Regions from separate parts of the Homo sapiens genome. Here region 1 is linked to region 2. The links come from fine-mapping of genetic effects on gene expression. A gene starts in region 2. The other region holds a variant in brackets. All regions are shown on one strand. Distances are between the middles of the regions.

Region 1 (10,396 bases), 32 kb after region 2:
CACAGAGGGCAAATGCTGAGGAGGGTGTGGGGCGGCCACGTGGACACAGAGGGCAAATGCTGAGGAGGGCGTGGGGCGGCCACATGGGCATGGATGGCAAATGCTAAGGAGGGCGTGGGGCAGTCGCGTGGACACAGACGGCAAATGCTGAGGAGGGTGTGGGGCGGCCGCGTGGGCATGGACGGCAAATGCTGAGGAGGGCGTGGGGCAACCGTGTGGACAGACGGCAAATGCCGAGGAGGGTGTGGGGCGGCCGCGTGGGCATGGACGGCAAATGCTGAGGAGGGTGTGGGGCAACCGCGTGGACACAGACGGCAAATGCTGAGGAGGGTGTGGGGCAACCGCGTGGGCATGGACGGCAAGTGCGGAAGACGGCATGGGCCACCCGCGTGGACACAGATGGCAAATGCTGAGGAGGGCGTGGGGCAGCTGCGTGGACACAGACGGCAAATGCTGAGGAGGGCCGGGTGCTGGCGGGTGGCTAGAGGGCGTGGGGCAGCCGCGTGGGAGGGCAGTTTGGTGGCTTCTTCAAACCTGAGCACACTCTTACCGTGTGACTTGCAGCCATGCCCCGGCGTATTTATTTAAATGAGTTGAAAACTTAATGTCCACTCAATACCTGCCCATATAGGTGTTGATAGCAGCTTTATTCATAATTGCCAGAACCCAGAAGCAGCCATGATGTCCTTCAGGAGGTGAATGGATGGATAAACTGGGGCCCATTCAGACAGTGGAACATTCAGTGCTAGGAAGAAATGAGCTGCCAAGCCGTGAAAAGACATGGAGGAGCCTTAAATGCATCTTACTGAGCGAGAGAAGCCAACCTGAAAAGGCTGCGCCCGGTGCGATTCCAACCACGTGACATTCTAGAAAACAAAATTATACAGTAACAAGCTCAGGGTTGCTAGGGGTTTGCGGGGGGGAGGGGTGACAGGCGGAGCACGGGATTTTTAGGGCCACGAAATTCCTTGATAATGGTGCATCCATGTCATTACACGCCTGTCCAAACCCATAGAAGGCACAGCACCAGGAGCGAGGCCTCACGCACACCGTGGGCTTTAGTTAGCGACGTACCTCAACATCATTACACGCCTGTCCAAACCCATAGAAGGCACAGCACCAGGAGCGAGGCCTCACGCACACCGTGGGCTTTAGTTAGCGACGTACCTCAGTGTTGGCTCCTCACACAGAAGGCACAGCACCAGGAGCGAGGCCTCACGCACACCGTGGGCTTTAGTTAGTGACATACCTCATTGTTGGCTCCTCACACAGAAGGCACAGCACCAGGAGCGAGGCCTAACACACACCGTGGGCTTTAGTTAGTGACGTACCTCAGTGTTGGCTTCTCAGTTGCAACAAGTGTTCCACTCTGGCAAAGGATGGGGGATAGTGTTGGGGGAGGCTCTCTTTGGGGGTGGGGAGTATATGAGAACTCTCTGTACCTTCCTCTCAATTTTCCTGTGAACCTAAAACTGCTCTAAAAAGTTGTATCTCTTAAAAGCAACCAAACTGGGGTGGGCACGTTGGCTCTTGCCTGTAATCCCAGCACTTTGGGAGGCCGAGGCAGGAGGATCACTTGAGTTCAGGAGTTTGAGACCAGCCTGGGCAACATAGTGCCACCTCGTCTCTATTAAAAATAATAAAACTTAGCCAGGCGTGGTGGCTCATGCCTGTAGTCCTGGCTGCTTGGGAGGCTGAGGTGGGAGGATTGCTTGAGCCCAGGAGGTCAAGGCTGCAGTAAGCTGCGATCGCAATACTGCACTCCAGCGCGGGCAACAGAGCATGACTCTGTCTCAAAAAAAAAAAAAATTAATAACCAAATGGAAATGAATCTCTGCTGCAGACCATATGAAGACAGACACAAGCAGAGGGGCCCTGTGGGTGTGGGGACGGCTCTCAGGCTCAGACAGGCCGTTAGCCGTCTTGATAGCTCGAGATTCAGGCCTGCGAGGTCCACTAGGCTCAGGTGTCTACAAAACTTAGAATTGATAAGAATTAAATAACAACAACAACTGAGGCTCTTGGTCACACTGGCCACCCCAAGTGCAATAGCCATGTGTGACTTGAGCTGTCCTGCGGGCCCTCTAGAACCTCTCCATCATCCTGGAGAGGACCGGGGAGCAGCACCGTTTCTGTCCTGAGGGCCCTCTAGAACCTCTCCATCATCCTGGAGAGGACCGGGGAGCAGCACCGTTTCTGTCCTGAGGGCCCTCTAGAACCTCTCCATCATCCTGGAGAGGACCGGGGAGCAGCACCGTTTCTGTCCTGAGGGCCCTCTAGAACCTCTCCATCATCCTGGAGAGGACCGGGGAGCAGCACCGTTTCTGTCCTGAGGGCCCTCTAGAACCTCTCCATCATCCTGGAGAGGACCGGGGAGCAGCACCGTTTCTGTCCTGAGGGCCCTCTAGAACCTCTCCATCATCCTGGAGAGAACCCGGGAGCAGCACCTTTTCTAGCAGCAGCATTTCGAAGATTGGATTGTCAGGTAACTTCCTCGCCCTTTTTTGCATATAGGCATAACTTAAAATGGGCATGGTCATATTATGTCATAATGATTGGAAACGTAATGTTTCTTAAAGTTTTCTATTTCATAACTTGTTTTAGAAATGTGTGCCTTAATTGATGAGCCAATTACCTGCATACTCACAAGTGTAAAAAGTCAGGTTGGTAAGAAGTCAGTGCCACCAAGGCAGCCCCAATGGCCCTGCTGTGACGGAAACAGTCTGAATCCTGAGGCTTAAATGGCTGCTGCTGTCGGTCAGCATTAGGGGTGTCGTGTCAAGCTGCCGGTGACCCACAAGGGCTGGCCCCTGAATGCAGCAGAGCCTGCAGTTTTCCTGGGAAGTGCAGCTGTGGCCAGAGGGCAGCCTGTCCTGGGCAGGCCAGAGGAGAGGGGCAGGGGAAGAATGGTCCCCAGGTTAGATTTGGGCCGGGCGCTGGCGGGTGGTTAGATTTGGGCCGGGCACTGGCGGGTGGTTAGATTTGGGCTGGATGCCTGTGGGTCGGCACGGGCTGCACTGCCGTCTGTGTTTCCTCCTCCGTGTCATGGCCTTCATGGGTGACTCTCAGAACCTGCCGTCCTGAGTGGGCAGGAGGGGCACAGAGCCTCTCCCTAGGTGCAGCCCTGCCCAGGCCGCCCTTCCCTGCTTCCCTGCCAGCTGCCTACCCAGAGCGCCGGGCCCTTCCCGCCCACCTCCTGGGCTCCACAGGGACCAACGGGCGGAGAACACTGGGCCATGGTGTGTCCAGCGAATGACGGCTACACTGCAGATTCCCCAACAGCTTTTTGAAAGATCCATGTCGTCTCAAACTACAACACGTTGTATCTCCTGAGATGCTTTCAGCAGCCCTTGAGCATCTTTTCTAGTTTGCAAATTGTAGTTTTTCTCATCAGTGTTCTCCTTCAGCTGAATGGCTGGGTTCTGAAGCTGGGGTTTTGAGAAGCGGGAATTCCTTCTGTGGCTGCAGCAGGAGTGTTGTGGGAACCGACCCAGCCCAGCTTGCCTGGCTCCCGCCAGGGCCCTGAGGATGGCACAGGACCTTTTGTGTTGGAAAGGGCTTGGCCGAGCTTGCGGGGGAGCCTCCTGGGTTGCAGGCCGGAAGTCCCAGGTCAGGGTGCTGGCAGGCTGTGTGTGCTCCCCGGGAATGTAGGTCACAGCCTTCCTTGCCTCTTCCAGCGCCCGCCGGCTGTGGGCACTCCCGGGAGTTCCTGCAGCTGCACTGCCAGGTGGCTCCTCGTCCCTGTGCTGGCCTCTGCTGTCATGAGGACACTGCCACACTGGGTTAGCCGAGCCTGCTCTAGCACAGCCTCCTGTAAACCAATTGCACCTGCAGTCACCTGTTTGCAGACGAGCTCACCAGCAGACTGGGGGTGAGGATTTCAGCACAGGGATTTAGGGGACACAATTGAACCTGTCAGGGCTGGTGTCAGAACTAAACTTAGGACCCCAAATGCTGGGATTTTTAAAGGCATTCTGCATTGCACTTCACTAAGGGACCTGGGGAGCTCGGGTGGGGTCTGTGATGCCCAGGATCCCCCAGGGCCCAGGGCAGTGTCTGGGATGGACATGCTCAGCACACACCACCTTGAACGCCCGGCCCCATGCTCACCTCAGAGGGCGGCGCAGCCTCACCATCGATGGAGGCCCCCTTGGAGGTGGGGGTCAGAGGAGCAGCCCAGCTCCAGGCGGCCTCGCCCTCTGTCCTGGGCGCCCGCCGTGGGCACAGCTGTGGGCACCCATGCAGGCAGGGGTGCAGCCTCAGGTGGTTACATTGAGCACAACTTCTTTGAGTTCTTGTAGAAAGGCTATTTTTTTCTTACTGGAACTGAATTCTGAGAGGAATTTGTAACACACATCATTCTGCAGAGTCTATATAACTTGAAAGTCTTTCCCTGCAGTGTTTGCAGAGGATGGAGGGCAGCTCCGCCAGTGTCTGCCAGTCTTTCAATGACAGCAGAGAGCTCTTGAATTCCAAGCCCCAAGCCCCTTCCAAGCCCCTCCAAGTCTAAACTAACAAGATTTAAACTTTTGGAGGAATTTCTTGATTGCTTTGATTTCCCTTGTATAGTAGAATTCTACTTAAATTTTACTAGGGGAAAAAGTGAGTTATTTTGGCAAAAAACAGTTTGAAGCTTGCTCATCTGCTCGTCATTCTCTCATTCATTCGCTCACATGATGTGCGTGTCACACATTGCCGCCAACCAGGTTTCCCACTGCACCTTGCTGGGCGGTGAGCAGAGGTGCCGGCTCCGAGAACGCATGCGGTTCTTCTCAGGGTCATACCTGTACCTGGCACACGGGACATGCACTGTCCCAGGTAATCCCACCGGTCTCCCGGGGCTGGTGTCACAGCCCAGGAGGTGGCGTATGGGGAGGGAGTGGAGGGGCCTCGGTGTCTCCTCAGGGCTGTTTCCTGCACACACGGGCTCCTGTTCACGGCCTTCCTTCCTGAAGACTTTAAAGAGAATT[C/G]CTTCTTCCTGTATGGGGTACAGTGTGGGTTCCGGTCCCAACAGCTCATGTTTCTCCCCTTGCAGATATTTGAGAGCCTATTTTGTACCAGACATTGTCAAGCTTTTTTAAAAAACAATATTTATAGACTCATGTCTAGGTGTATTTTATCTAATTGTTTGAGTTCAGCGGTAGTAAACTATAATTTCCAAAAAAGAGAGTTGACAATATAAAAATCTAGTGTGATTGTGTCACCGTCTGGATGAATCTGAACATGTGCCTGGCAGTGACTTTTTTTGGGGTGGTCAGAACAGAAACTTTTTTTGGGGTGGGGGACAAGGTGTTGCTCTGTCCCCCAGGCTGCAGTGCGGTGGCGCAATCTCAGCTCACTGCAACTTCCGCTTACTGGGTTCAGGTGATCCTCCCACCTCAGCCTTCGGAGTAGGTGGGACCACAGGTCCACGCCTTCACCCCAGGCTAATTTTTGTACCTTTTTTTTTTTTTAAGAGACGGGGTTTCACTATGTTGTCCAGGCTGGTCTCAAATTCCTGGGCTCAAGCAATTAGTCCTCCTTGGCCTTTGAAAGTGCTGGGATTACACGTGTGAGCCCCTGCGCCCAGCAATACATAAACATTTTCACTGATCATTTTCGTCACGGCATTTAGTCGGCATTGTTTCCGCAGCACGTTTATTTGGCAAACATGATTTTTTCTCCCCAAACGTGAATTCTGTGGAAATGACAGTTGCATTTGGAAAATATTCCAGAAAACAGTTTTTTTGTTTGTTTAACTTTTTACTTTAAAAGGTATTCACCAGTTCATTTCCATAAACTGACTACTTAATGATATGGCAAAAAAAAAAACCCCTTCTGAAATAGGTTTTGTTTACGGTCGCTTGGGAGACAGTGAGGACTGGTTTGAAAGTACATAGTTAACAAGGCTCAAACTCTGGAAATTAGCGGTTCTGTCCATTCCAGCTCTCCCCCTGCTTCGATTGTTTCATTTGATTAGGCTTAAATTCAAAACTTTGAATTTAGAGAAGTCTTTGACCCTCTAGGAAGTGGGTGAGGCTTTGGTATCTGGGCAGAGCAGAGTTCACCATCCAGAAGGACAGCAACACACACTCCTATCAGACGTATGTTTTAAAAATAACACATTTCTGAATCCTTTTTCTTGATTCAATTTTAGTATTTGTCATTCTCATACTTGTAAAACTCGTGAGTGTTGGTGGAAGCAGTTCCAGAAAGCTCGTGGGGTCCCCAGGTGTCATGGTCAGCTGGGGGTCTCATCCCCACCGTCCTTGCAGTGGTAGCTGGATCCAGTTCACGCTGTCGTGGGCCTGGGCCCCTCTGTGTATTTGTGGTGACCTAAAAATCTGTTTCCTTCAAAAGGCACTCCTAGAATGTATGACTAGTTTAGGAGATTCAAAGGAAAATGAAACACCTCAAATTTAAAGGTTGTTTTTAGACCGCTAGAGTTCCCCGGGAGGCGACTTCCCCAGGAGGCTCGGCAGAGAGCGCCTGGAGACTGCGTGGAGTGTAAGTGGGTTGTGTGTCTGTGGGTTGCTCCCTAGCAGGGCTCCCCCTCAGCCCCCTCCGGAGCTGCCTGCAGCCGAGCTGGGCCGTCCTGCTTGGGTGCATCTCCCTGGCCCACGGGGGATTGTCTGTGTTGGAGGGGCTTGGTTTGGGCTGACCCAGGCTCTGTCCCGAGGTGCCACCTGCTTCTGTGGATTGCCGGGCATGGCAGCAGGAGGTTTCCTCAGGAACGTGTGCTGGGAAGAAATCCCAGCCCTTGGGAAAGGCTGGCAGGGGCTGGGTTCCTCTCGCTCCTGGGTGTGCCGGGTGGTGTTGTCCCAGCACATGGGTCTCCTCTGGAAAAAGGAGAAGCACCTGTCTGCTCTGATGGTGGCACACAGTCCTAGCACGCCGTCTCTGCAAATGATGCACACGGCAGGCTGCGCCATCAGCCGTAACCCCGGTCCAAGGAGACCTGTGACTCGCCTCCTGCAAAATGTTTCTTATCAAGCACTTACTTGGAACAGTTATTAACCATGCTCTTTAATAATTATGGAGGTTTGTATTTTAAGCTATATATCGGTGTTCATATTTGACACTGATTTTCTAACCATCAGAGATATTTAATTAAAATTGTAAATAAGAGAGGCAAAATGAAAATAAAAGGAGAAGAATTCTAGGGAGAGATGCAAGGTGTCAGAAGTTATTTCTAAAAGTAAAGTGGATGATACTGAATTCTCTTCCAGACCATCAGCCCAGCCGGGTGATGTTCATCTGCTGGGTGCACAGATTTAAAATGTGAAAAGCTCTTTTTTCCCCTTACTTTCTCTTGTTTTCTTTTCTTTTTTTTTTTTTTTGAGACAGAGTTTTGCCCTGTCACCCAGGCTGGAGTGCAATGGTGCAATCTCGGTTCACTGCAACCTCCGCCTCTCGGGTTCAAGCCATTCTCCTGCCCCACCTTCCTGAGAAGCTGGGATTACAGGTGCCCGCCAACACGCCTGGCTAATTTTTTTATTTTTAGTAGAGATGGGGTTTCACCATGTTGGCCAGGCTGGTCTCAAGCTTCTTACCTTGTGATCTGCCCACCTTGGCCTCCCAAAGTGCTGGGATTACAGATGTGAGCTACCACCCCCAGCCTCTTGTTTCTTCTCTGTGAGTTGTAGATCCTATTAAAAGAAAATAAAAACCAGTGACTCAGAATTCTAATGATACTTATTTTGCCCCTTAAAAAGGTTAACTACAAGCGCAGTACAGCACAGAGGAACTTAGTCAGTGTCTCTGGCTAACATAGATCGATCGATCTATCTATCTATCTATCTATCTATCTATCTATCTATCTATCTATCTCTCCTTGATGTGGTTTTGGTTTTTCTTTTTAGAAAATGAAATGAAATATGATACCAATAATAATGAAGAGGAAGAGGGAGAACAGTTCGATTTTGACAGTGGAGATGAAATCCCAGAAGCGGACAGACAGGCCCCATCCGCCCCTGAGACAGGAGGTGCTGGAGCCAGTGAAGCCCCTGCACCCACAGGTGAGTTTCCAGGAGGGTCCCCAGGTGAGTCCCCAGGTGGGTCCCCAGGTGAGTCCCCAGGTGGGTCCCCATGTGAGTCACCAGGTGAGTTCCCAGGTGAGTCCCCAGGTGAGTCCCCAGGTGGGTCCCCAGGTGAGTCCCCTGGGGGGTTCCCAGGTGAGTCCGCAGATCACCGGCATCAGGGTCACCTGTGCTCAGCCATCGGACTCGCCGATTTTCTCCCCATTCTTACGGCCCAATTGGAACATTGTAGGGAAAGGATGATTTCTAGGAGCCAGAGAGTTATGATTTCTTCATGATGTACCTGAAAGGACTTAATTTAAGATTGGCTAAGTTTCTTCTCTTTGTACTATTTTCCATAATTTTCAACCTTTTCACTCTACCTTTGTATTTTGCAAAGAAAAAGTATTGCTATTTCCCAATAAGAATGACCTCATCATTGTATCACTAGATTAAAAGAAATATTCAGAACATGTGGGATGAAGTAGCTGTAGAGGTTTCGCTTTCTAAGTTTGGAGGTGGGTTGGGTGCTTTCATTCGCTGACCAGAGGGACTGCTCAGGTCAGGCAGTGGTGGGAGAGCCTGCACAGTGTTTCTTCCTGTGTAGCACCCGCCTCTCAGCTCGCACGGTGTTTCTTCAGGTGTAGTACCAGCCTCTCAGTTTGGCAGCGTTCCTCTTGGCTCGCACGGTGTTTCTTCAGGTGTAGTACCAGCCTGTCAGTTTGCACAGTGTTTCTCTCTGCTTGCACGGCATTTCTTTGGGTGCAGCACCAGCCTCTCGGTTGTTTGCATGCCGTTTCTTTGTGCATAGCACCCACCTCTTGGCTTGTACCGTGTTTCTTTGTGCGTAGCACCAGCCTCTCGGTTCTTTGCATGGTTTCTTTGTGCGTAGCGCCAGCCTCTCGGTTGTTTGCCCGGTGTTTCTTTGGCCATAGCACCTGCCTCTTGGTTGTTTGCACGGTGTTTCTTTGTGCATAGTACCCGCCTCTCTGCTTGCACGGTGTTTCTTTGTGCGCAGCACGCGCCTCTCTGCTTACACGGTGTTTCTTTGTGCACAGCACCAGCCTCTCGGTTGTTTGCCCGGTGTTTCTTTGGCCATAGCACCTGCCTCTCGGTTGTTTGCCCGGTGTTTCTTTGGCCATAGCACCTGCCTCTTGGTTGTTTGCATGGTGTTTCTTTGTGTGCAGCACGCGCCTCTCTGCTTACACGGTGTTTCTTTGTGCATAGCACCAGCCTCTCGGTTGTTTGCCCGGTGTTTCTTTGGCCATAGCACCTGCCTCTCGGTTGTTTGCACGGTGTTTCTTTGTGCGCAGCACCCGCCTCTCTGCTTACATGGTGTTTCTTTGTGCATAGCACCAGCCTCTCGGTTGTTTGCACAGTGTTTCTTTGGCCATAGCATCAGCCTCTCGGTTGTTTGCATGGCGTTTCTTTGTGCACAGCACCCGCCTCTCAGCTTGCATGGTGTTTCTTTGTGTGTAGCACCAGACTCTTGGTGAGGGGAGCAGCTGCCCTCCTCCGGCAGCTTCTCCCTGACTTAGCTCATGGGATGAGCCTCCTGTAGTGACCAGGCTGCATCCGTCTCACCTGTGCCCAGAGGTGATGCTGGGTTCCCCATGTGTGAGTGCTCCCTCCGAGGCCACCTGATGACCTGGGAACGTCTAGGGGTCCTGGCATGGGATGATGGTGGGAGCTCATACCTGCTTCCCACTTGCGCTCCAGGAGGGCATGCCTGCCATGCCCTTGGTGATGTGTCTGCTGACAAGTCCTTTCTGCATCCCCAGGAGGTGAGGATGGAGCTGGAGCAGAAACCACCCCAGTGGCAGAGCCTACTAAGCTGGTGCTCCCGATGAAAGTCAACCCATATTCTGTCATCGACATCACGCCATTCCAGGAGGACCAGCCGCCCACCCCCGTGCCCAGCGCTGAGGAGGAGAATGTGGGTCTCCATGTGCCCTGCGGGTACTTGGTGCCTGTACCCTGCGGCTATGCGGTGCCCTCCAACCTGCCCCTCCTGCTGCCCGCCTACTCCAGCCCGGTCATCATCTGCGCCACGTCCCTGGACGAAGAAGGTACTGCTACCCTCCTCTCCACGCCCCCGAAGTGGCCTGTGGTTCCCTCCTCTCCACGCCCCCGAAGTGGCCTGTGGTTCCCTCCTCTGCATGCCCCGGATGTGGCCTGTGGTTCCGTAGAGTCCGGGCCTGACCTTCCCCCCTCCTCCTCCTCTCCATGCCCCCGATGTGGCCTGTGGTTCCGTAGAGTCCGGGCCTAACCTTCCCCCCTCCTCCTCCTCTCCATGCCCCCGATGTGGCCTGTGGTTCCGTAGAGTCTGGGCCTGACCTTCCCTCCTCCTCCTCTCCATGCCCCTGATGTGGCCTGTGGTTCCGTAGAGTCCGGGCCTG
Region 2 (10,396 bases):
GCCAGTAGGAGGCAGACCTGGAGAGATTTAGAGCCTGGATCCGGCACCACGATGGGGGCCTGGGAGCGAGGTCCAGGCAGGCAGGCCGTGGGAAGGGCAGGCTGGACCTGGGGCAGAGCTGAAGCTACCGCCCACAGCGGAATTTCTTCTCTGGAAAGCCTTTCCAGTGCTGAATCGGGCCCACCCGGATTGTCTAACATAGTCTTCCTCATTTAAAGTCCACTGTGATGGGTCTTTTGCACACCAACAGAACACCTCCACAGCCACATCTGGACCCATGTTGAATGAATTACCGGGGACTGTCACCTGGTCAAGGTGACATATAAAACTGACCCGCACAGTAGGTGCGAATGTCTTTCCAATTCTTTGCAGGAAACTGAGGCACAGCAATGCAGATAGCACAGCTGGTAAGGGAAGTGCCTGGGATGTGAACCCAGGAACTGTGCCCAGGAGTGGATACAAGCTTCCATCTTCGGACAGTGCCTCAGGCTCCCCCGAGATGTCCATGGGGTCAGGTGCCCTGACACCGGTCTCTGCACATGAAAGTGTTGAGTCTTCATGCTGCCTAAGTAGGTTTTGCTCTTGTTTTCAGTGAGGAGACTGAGGCCCAGGACATTGAATGACGCCCATGTTCATCCATATAGTGGTAAAAGAGGCAGAAGCCCCCGGGCCTATTTGATGATAGAGCCCAGGCCTTTAGGCCCTGCTAGAGCTGACCTCACGCACCCGCTCCGCGTGGGGCATGGAGACGTCTCTGGAGTAGAGGCGAGGCCTAGAACCAGGCAGGCTGTCTTTGCCATTTTTTTCCTTTCTGAATGTCCTAACTAGGGTATAGATTATCCCTACCCTCTGCATGGGCCTTGCACTTAATTTGCTTGCAATTAATTAAGGGATATTTTGTATTCCGTCAATAAAGGGAATCATTATTTTTTTAAAGGAACCCAGCTTTTAAAACCCCTTTTTGCTGATACATAACTTAATTTGTTCCTGCTACTGTAACAAAACACCAGAGACTGGGTCATTTATAGACAACAGGAGTTTATTTCTCACAGTTCTGGACGTGGGGAAGTCCAAGATCAACGTGCCAACAGGTTCAGTGTCTGGGGAGAGCCTGGTCTCTGCTCACAAGACAGCACCTTGAGCACTGTGCCCTCACTGGTAGGAGGGGTGAACAGCCCCCTGGCACTTCTACAAGGGCACTAAGCCCATCCCTCATGACCCACTAACCTCCTCAAGGCCCCACCTCTTACTGCTATCACGTTGGTGATGAACTTTCAGTCATCAAGGGGGATGCATTGAGGCCACTGTATATATCCCATGAAGTAGCTTACTCTTGTGTTCGGCTTGATTCTATTTACAAAGTGAACACACCCATGTGTCTGCAAATCAAATCAAGATGTAGTCACCGTTTTCATCACTCCCCAGAATTCCTTTGTCTTTTCTGAGACAATACCCCCAAAAATAACCACTGTTCTGATTCCTATTATTATAGGTTGGTTTGGCACATTCTTGAATTTCATAAAAATTGAATCATACTATATGTGCCCTTTTGTCTATGTTTTTCATGTTTTCAAGATTCATTGTTATTGAACATATCAGTTTCTTCCTTTTTATTACTGTATTATTAGTATTCTATTATTCTATGAAGATACAATACTTTATGAGTTCACCTGTTGATGGAATTTGGGTTGTTTCCAGTTGCGAAGTATTTGAACTGTTTTGAAGAAAGAATTCTTGTAAAAATCATTTTTTTTTTTTGAGACAGGGTCTTGCTCTGTCCACCCAGGCTAGAGTGCAGTGGTGGTGAACATGACTCATTACAGCCTTGACCTCCCAGCCTCAAGCGATCCTCCCACTTCAGCTTCCTAAGTAGCTGGGACTGGAGGTGGAGACTATCATGCTAGACTCCTGGGCTCAAGCAATCCTCCACCTTGGCCTCCTAAAGTGCTGGGGTTACAGGTGGGAGTCACCATGTCTGGCTGTAAAAGTCTTTTAAGGGACTTATGTTTTCACTTGCCTTGGGCAAACCTAAAAGTGGGATTGCTGAGAAATGGGCAAACAATTAATCAGAGTGGTTGCGCCATTTGCACTCTCATCGCCTTGTATAGTGGTTCCAGGGGCTCCACATTTTTACCCTTGCCATGTCGGTCTGCAGTTTCAGCCGTGCTTGGATGACGGTGGTGGCATCTCATTGTGAGTTTACTTTGGGTAACACTGAGCACTATTTCCTGTTCTTGTTGGCTATCAGTACATCTTTGGTGAAGTATTTACGTCTTTTGTTTATTTTTAAATAGACTTGTTATTGTTATTTACAGGCTTGTTATTGTTATATTGTTTTGTCCCTTTTGAAATAGACTTGTCTTGTTATTGTTCATTTGCAGGAGTTCTCTATTTACCAGGACTATGGTTTGAACGCGTTTTCCCCAAAGTTTATGTGTTGGAAACTTGACCCCCAATGCAGCAGTGTTGGAAGGTGCCTACTAGGTGGTGTCTGGGTCATGGGGGTATGACCCTCATGGATGGATAAATGCCATGACTGAGGCGGTGGGCTCCTTATAAAAGAATGAGTTTGGGTGAAACCTCGTCTCTACTAAAAATACAAAAATTAGCTGGGTGTGGTGGCACATACCTGTAATCCCAGCTACTCGGGAGGCTGAGGCAGAATAGCTTGAACCAGGGAGTCGGAGGTTGCAGTGAGCAGAGATCGCACCACTGCACTCCAGCCTGATGACAGAGCAAGACTCCGTCTCAAAAAAAAAAAAAAAAAAGATAAGTTTGGCCCATTTTGCATCCTCCCTCCCCACCTCCGCCTCCCACCTTCCGTCATGGGATGATGCAGCCCGAAGGTTCTTGCCAGATGTGGCTCCTTGATCTTGAACTTCCCAGCCTCCAGAACTGTGAGAAATAAATTTCTTTTCATTGTAAATCACCCATTCCCAGGTATTCTGTTACAGCAGCACAACGTGGATTAAGACAAGCCATTTGTGGGATATATGCATTGCCCCTGTGTTCTCCCAGTCTGTGGCTTGCCTTTTCATTTTCTTAATGATGTCATGAGATGAGTAGAAATATTAAATTTTGATAAGCCATTTAATCATTTTTAAATGGTCGGTCCATTTTCTGTCTTACCTGAAGATCCGTAAGATCTTTTCTTATATTTTATCCTAGCAACTTTATAATTTTTACACTTAAGTCTATGATCCATCTGAAATTCCTAAATTCTATTTTAATCCTAATAGTTTATTTGTAGATAATTTTGTTTTTTAACATATATAATCATATTGACTGTAAATAATCAGTTTTTCCTCCCTCAATCCTTACACTTTTTGTTTTTATGACCTACAACACTTGTTAGATGCTGCAGGACAATGCTGAATAGACTACGGAGAGTCAAAGATTTTCATACACCCTTATCAGTACAAGTAGATAAAAAGTACAAGTAGATAAAAAGTACAAGTAGATAAAAAAATCAGTAACAAATATGACCTAATTGACATCTGTAGAACTTTATGTCAGTGAAAGCATGTTCTCAGCAAGTGCTCATAGAACATTTACCAAAATAGACAATGTTGGGCCATGAAGCAAGTGTTTGAAAATCTTAAACGACAAAAATAAAACAGCTGATGTTTTAAGGCCCGGTGGAATTAAACTTTAGTTACAATAAAAAGAAAACCAGAAAGTCCCCATATATTTGAAAGGTGAACCTAACTTTTCTAAATATCCCATGGGTCAAAGAGGGAATCACAATGGAAAATCCCAACTCTTCCATATCCGGGCTTACGAAAATAGGGATGTATCTGTGAGGAACGCCTGAATAAAGCAGACAGACAGGATCTATTGGAGCTCCAAATCAGGGGATTTTCTGCCCAACCTGCCTGGAAGGCATTGCTCTGTGGCCCTACTCAGTGGTGTCCCTGGCGGCCCTGAGTTTAGGGGCTCAATTTCATCCATTGAGAAAATGAGTTGTTTATTCCATACACAGGACTATTTCCTCTTATCTCTACCTTTTTAGAAAACACTACAAGTATCAGGATTTTCTCATCGTATTTAGGTAAACAAGAACTAATTTAGTTGACCTTCTTACTTCTGTTGATCAAGACCATTGATCTGACCATTGATCTGTGCAGAAGATCTCTGAATAAGGTACCCAGAGAACCCTAGGAATAGAAACCTGAAATAAGTTTTCTAATCTTAAGGTCGCTGAGAGCAAATACCTTTTTCAATTGATTCATAAAAACAACTCAGTCTGATTTCATAAAATTAGCAAGTGTGAATAATAAACATTGAAAAAATATCACCTTACCTACGATTATTTTTTCCAGCCATTGTAGTCTTTCTATGTTGGCTATGATTTTTACATAGTCCAAAATTTTCAGGGAAATAACTTATTCCAGAGCACACAAGCCTTAAGGGCAGTTAATGTTTAGATTAATTTCGTGATACTTAGCATCCCAAATAGCTGTTTGTATTTCTTCTATAAAACAAGTGAAAGGGGCTAGAAATCTCTAAGAAGTCTGACAGTTCTAAAACACTGACTTAAAATTACTTCTATGATTCGGAGATTTGGGTAGGAGAAGGCATAGAAATAAATCTAGCATCTGCGAACACACTTGTTAAATGTGCTGACCAGGTAAAAGATAACATCCTTTAGTTATTTTGGTTAAAAATGTCTTTGTTTCTCGTTTTTTTTTTTCTTTAATAGTAATTATAACGATAATCTGTTTCCTTTTTAAAAGTATAAGACAAATAAATGCTCAAAGTAAACAATTCCAATAACTCAGAAGGGGCCATTCCCTGGAAAGGTCCCGGGAAAAACGAGCGCTTCCTGGCAAGAAGCAAGCTTCAAAAACTGCCTCGGAAACGTGGCTGAAGTCATCGCATTTCCAAACGCCCAAGCCTTGGCTGGTCCAGGGCAGCTGGCGCGGAAGACCCGGAACGCCCTGTGGGCAGGGCCAGCTGCGGACGGAGGGACGGGGGCTCAAGGGCGGGTCGGGTGGGGTCCCGACGCCCCCTCCTCGGCTGGGCGCACCCCGGGTGTCCGCAGGGAGGGGCGATGTTCTGGGGGGGGGAGCGTCTGCCCGACGCCCCCTCCCTCAGGTGAGCTCAGCCCGTGGGGGTCCGCAGAAAGGGCGGTGCTCTGGGAGAGGGTTAGGGTCTGCCCGGCGCACCCTCCCCAAGGGGCGCAGCTCTGAGCCGGGAGCAGGCTCTGCGGGGAGGATCCAGATGTTGGGGGCGGGGAGGGCACTCGGTCTGCCCAGCGACCCCTCCCGAAGTGAGCGCGGCCCGGGGTCCGCGGGGCAGGAGATGATCCGGGGGCGGGAGCCTCTGCCGCGCGCCCCCTCCCACGCGTGCGCAGCCTGGGCCGGGCGTTGGGCAGCGGGAGGGGGCGCGGGCGGCCACGTGGCCTCGAAGGAATGCGCGGGCGCGAGGGCAGGGCGCTGCCGAGAAACCGGCAGGCTCTGCGGCCAATGGGCGCCCGGAACGGTCTGGGCCCGCCAATGACAGCATGGTGGGTGGAGCAGGCCGTCCGGGCGGGAGGGGCTGGGCGCATCCCTGTAGCCGGCGGGCGCGCGATCCGGGACGGACGGGGTCGCGGGGGACGCGGGGGACGCGGGGGACGGCGGGGAACGGCGGGGGACGGCGGGGAACAGCGGGGGACGGCGGGGAACAGCGGGGGACGGCGGGGAACAGCAGGGGACTGCGGGTCGCGTCCTGGCCGCCGAGGTGAGTGCGGGCCCCGCGGACCGTGGGTCCCCTCGCGGGCTTCTGGTTTCCTTTGAGAGTTGCACTTCTGCCCGGCTCCCCCGAAATCGCTGGGTCCCACCCGGAGGTGGCTGCGCCCCCGACCCCCTGCGCAGATGTTTCAGGGAAGGGGCTGAGACCCCCTCCCCCCGAGCAGCTCCCCCTTCCGCGGCGCCCCCGGCCCCTCAGGATAACGGCGCGGGCCTGGGCGGGGGGAGCAGGGACTGGCAGCAGGGACCCCTGGCCCCAGGGGCAGGAGCGAACTCCGATCGGCGGAAGGAGCCCGAGGGGCGAGCTGGCTTCGCCTGGGGGGTCGTGCAGTAACTTAGATTTTCCGGTAAAGGAGAAGAATGCGGTCCGCCTCAGGATGCAGAGAAGGACCGGTGTAAGGAAAGCCGGCGTCTTTCCCCCGCACCCTACCTGTCCCCCTACCCCACCAGTTCCCCGCACCCCGTGTACCCCGCCTGTCCCTCAGCACCCCCTGTTCACTCTGCACTCCACCAGTTCCCCGCACCCCAGCTGTCCCCCCGCACCCCACCTGTTTACCCTGCACCCCAGCTGTCCCCCGCGCCGCAGCTGTCCCCCCCACACCCCACCTATTCCCCCGCACCCCGCCTGTCCCCCCGCACCCTACCTGTTTATTCTGCACCCCACCTGTCCCCTCGCACCCCACCTGTTCCCCCTGCACCCCACCTGTCTTCCCCACACCCCACCTGTTTACTCTGCACCCCAGCTGTCCCCCCACACCCCACCAGTTCCCCGCACCCCGTGTACCCCGCCTGTCCCTCAGCACCCCATGTTAACTCTGCACTCCACCAGTTCCCCGCACCCCACCTGTCCCCTCGCACCCCACCTGTCCTCCCCACACCCCACCTGTTTACTCTGCACCCCAGCTGTCCCCCCACACCCCACCTGTTCACCCGCACTCCACCTGTCCCCCCGCACTCCACCTGTCCCCCCGCACCCCACCTGTCCCCCCTGCACCTCACCTGTCCCCCCGCACCCCACCTGTCCCCCCGCACCCCACCTGTCCCCCCGCACTCCACCTGTCCCCCCGCACCCCACCTGTCCCCCCGCACCCCACCTGTCCCCCCGCACCCCACCTGTCCCCCGCACCCCACCTGTTCACCTGCACCCCACCTGTCCCCCCGCACCCCACCTGTCTCCCCGTACCCCACCTGTTCCCCCGCACCCCACCTGTCCTCGCACCCCACCTCTCTCCCTGAACCCCACCTGTCCCCTGCACCTCAACTGTCCTGCACCCCACCTGTCCCCCTGATCCCCACCTGTCCTCTGCACCTCACCTGTCCCCCTACACCTCACCTGTTTACCCTGCACCCCAGCTGTCCCTCGCACCCCAGCTGTCCCCCCCGTACTCCACCTGTTCCCCTGCACCCCACAGCCCGCTGGTGCCCAAGAAGCCAAGGTAGATTCTGAGGAAACTGCCCTAGGTCCACAGACGCCCTGCCCACCTGTCCCAGCCCCACTCCCCTTCCATGGGCCCCTGGGCACTGAAGGTGAGGTCTGAGTACCCCTCCCGACTGTGGCCAGTAGGTCATGTTCCCAGGCAGCAGTAGACGAACTTGCTGTTGTCTGATATTGATTCCAGTCACTAACTTTGGCTGCAAGTAAAAATTCTCATTGACTCAAGATGTAACGGGTTTTAATTCTTTTCTCTGGTTAACCATAACCTGAGTACGGACTGGTCAGTATTCTAGATTCTGTGCAGGAGTGACTTAATGTCCATATGGGTGGAATGCTGCAAGGAGGAACAATTTCACTGTTGCTGATTAATAATATGTTTTGAACACCTGCTTTATAGAAAATAATTTTTATTCGAAAAGAGAGATGATTACTGAGGTTTACACGTCATGTATTTTTAAAAACACACTTTGTCCCTGTCTGTCTCTCACAGCATTTATTTGCTGGCTTTAGCAGCCAACATCGGCAGTTACGGATGCATAACTCTTTATAGACAGATGAGACCTCCAGGATTTCTCAGCAGTAAGAAAAGTCATTTGTATAAGGTGCTATTTGTAATTCATTAGTTGTAGACAGTTGGGGGTGAAGTGAAGTTAAAAGTTATTCAGAATAGCTTTTTATGTTTTTAAAAGTTGATGCTTGACTTCCAGATGTAACCACATTTGTCTTCTGGGTGCTTTGGTGTGCTGCCTTTCCTCTGCAGTTTGTGTGTGCATACGTGTGCGTGTGTCTTTGTGTATGTGTTTGTGTTTGTATGCATGTGTGTGCGTTTGTGTGTGCGTGTGTTTGTGTGTGTGCTGTGTGTGTGTGCGCTTTGTGTGTGTGTGTGTGCGCGTGTGTGAGTTGTAGATAGAGGCGTTGGGTGGTGTGGAGGGTGTGGAGTTACAGACCTGGGTTGAGGTGGGGAAGCTTTTCCCTGGCCCTGTGAGTCCAGACTTCTCACGGGACTTGAGGGTGCTCACTTACGAAGTTGCTAGAAGGCGTTGTATGGGGAAGTGCTGCTTAAAACAAAGATGTTTGGCATAAATTAGAGCAAACTGGAAATGCGCTAATGACGGTTGTATTCTGTAAGCGATGTGAAAACGTCATAGTGAGATGTAAGAAAGCGCTGTTGTAGGCCCGTCATTGTTTACTGCACAGTGTGTGGCAGGAAGCATGCAAAGAACAGCTCGGATCTGGAGATGCTCAGAGAATCTGTGTTTCATGCGTGCGTTGCTTATAGTTTGCCTGGGTAGAAAGGTAAGTGGCGTGAAATAAGACAGAAGGGAAGCGTAGCTGTTAGTCATTCATGAGGGAGAACTTCAGCTCTCTCCCTTAACCAGGCTTTCTGGGAGTGTAATTTTGGAAGGTTCTGGGAGCTCTGCAGTGGAAAGGGGTGGGCCAGGCCCAGGGGCTGCCAAGGGTCTGAGAGGCAGGGAGAGCAGAGGCCGGTGACCAGCAGGGGTCCTTGCCTGGGTGGCAGACAGGGCCACAGCCCCAGGTCCGTCTAGGGAGGGGCAGGGTTACCTGTAAGGACAGGTGTGGCAAAGGGGCCCAGGGAGAATGCCCTGCCACCAGCCCCCACGCTGATACACACACACTTCTGCCACATCTGCCACCCTACTCTGCTTCAGCCTGTTCATAGTTGTCAGGTTTGGACATTGGTTTTGGTTCTGTTTGTTTGTTTTCTGTGAGTAGTTTTCCAAATTTTGATAAAAAAGTGATCTTTTTTTTTGAAATGGAGTATCACTCTGTTGCCCAGGCTGGAGTGCAGTGGAGAGATTCGGCTTGCTGCAGTCTTTGCTTCCCAGGTTCAAGCAATTCTCCTGCCTCTGCCTCCCAAGTAGCTGGGATTATAAGCACCCACCACCGTGCCCGGCTAATTTTTGTATTTTTAGTAGACGGGTTTTGCCATGTTGGCCAGGCTGGTCTTGAACTCCCGACCTCAAGTGATCCACCTGCCTCAGCCTCCCAAAGCGCTGGGATTACAGGCGTGAGCCACTGCATGCCCCGTCAAAATGATCATTTTAAATCGTGGATTTTTCCTTTCCTTCCATCATTGCCATTTCCTGCTTTTTGTTGTATCATTAGAGTAAAGCAGGCCTGCCAGTAGAAAGTGCTATATGGGGGTTGTTGGTATTTTATATTTTTGTTAAATGATGTGAAAAAGGTGTAAAATATTTTTAAAAATGTTTGGGTTCAAAGTTTTTCTCTTCCATGGGTCACTTCTGATAGGGGAAATAACTGTGTAAAGTAAAATATGGTATCCAGAGCTGTGACTGGTGCGGGGGCCCTTGTGAGGGAGCGATGGGGAAGCATGCAGGTTGTTAACAGGCACATGTAGAGATGCATGGCTGTCTGCGTAGAATAGGCCTGGCTGCATCAGCATTGGCTAGTTACCAATCTGGCCATTCTAGGTTCCAATATCTTAATGACCGTCAGTCCCTGGGGACTCACAGTGGGGGTTTAATGAAGAAAACAGAAGGAATGGTTGTGGTACCTCAACACTCTGCCTCCACTGATAGCTACAGACAGCCGAGGCCCTTTTCGGCACCAGGTGAGTCGGGGTGAGTCAGGCTCCTGCAAGTCGTAGGTGTTGCTTCCGTGCTGAGATCACGTTCTTTGTTTTGTTTTGTGCCCGTGGCTTGTTGTCCAGCTGTGGGGAACAGACCCTTACACTTGGATGTGGTCGTTATTATGTTGTGGAAGAGCAGTGCCTTCCTCTTAAAGTGCCTTCCTCCCTTAAAACCGTGGCATGCACACTTAACGGTTTTAAGGAATTACATTTTGATAAACCGTGGCATGCACACTTACTGTTTTAAGGAATTACATTTTGATAAACCGTGGCATGCACACTTACTGTTTTAAGGAATTACATTTTGATAAACCGTGGCATGCACACTTACGGTTTTAAGGAATTACATTTTGATAAACCGTGGCATGCACACTTACTGTTTTAAGGAATTACATTTTGATAAACTGTGGCATGCACACTTCCTGTTTTAAGGAATTACATTTTGATAAACCGTGGCATGCACACTTAACGGTTTTAAGGAATTACATTTTGATAAACCGTGGCATGCACACTTACTGTTTTAAGGAATTACATTTTGATAAACCGTGGCGTGCACACTTAACGGTTTTAAGGAATTACATTTTGATAAACCGTGGCATGCACACTTACTGTTTTAAG

The links. PIP is the estimated chance that this variant, and not a neighbour inherited with it, causes the effect.
Region 1: its variant is fine-mapped to the expression of ARHGEF10 in whole blood (TOPMed, PIP above 0.99).

Annotation. Positions count from the first base shown.
Region 1 is chr8:1,850,119-1,860,514 of GRCh38, forward strand. It overlaps ARHGEF10 (Rho guanine nucleotide exchange factor 10), which reads left to right. Exons shown (of 29, transcript NM_014629.4): 3 at 7,842-7,997; 4 at 9,779-10,066. Among named protein-coding and RNA genes, the nearest start is that of ARHGEF10, 31 kb to the left of the region's middle. The variant C/G (reference allele first, on the strand shown) is at 4,971.
Region 2 is chr8:1,818,390-1,828,785 of GRCh38, forward strand. ARHGEF10 (Rho guanine nucleotide exchange factor 10) reads left to right here and starts at 5,537. Exons shown (of 29, transcript NM_014629.4): 1 at 5,537-5,724.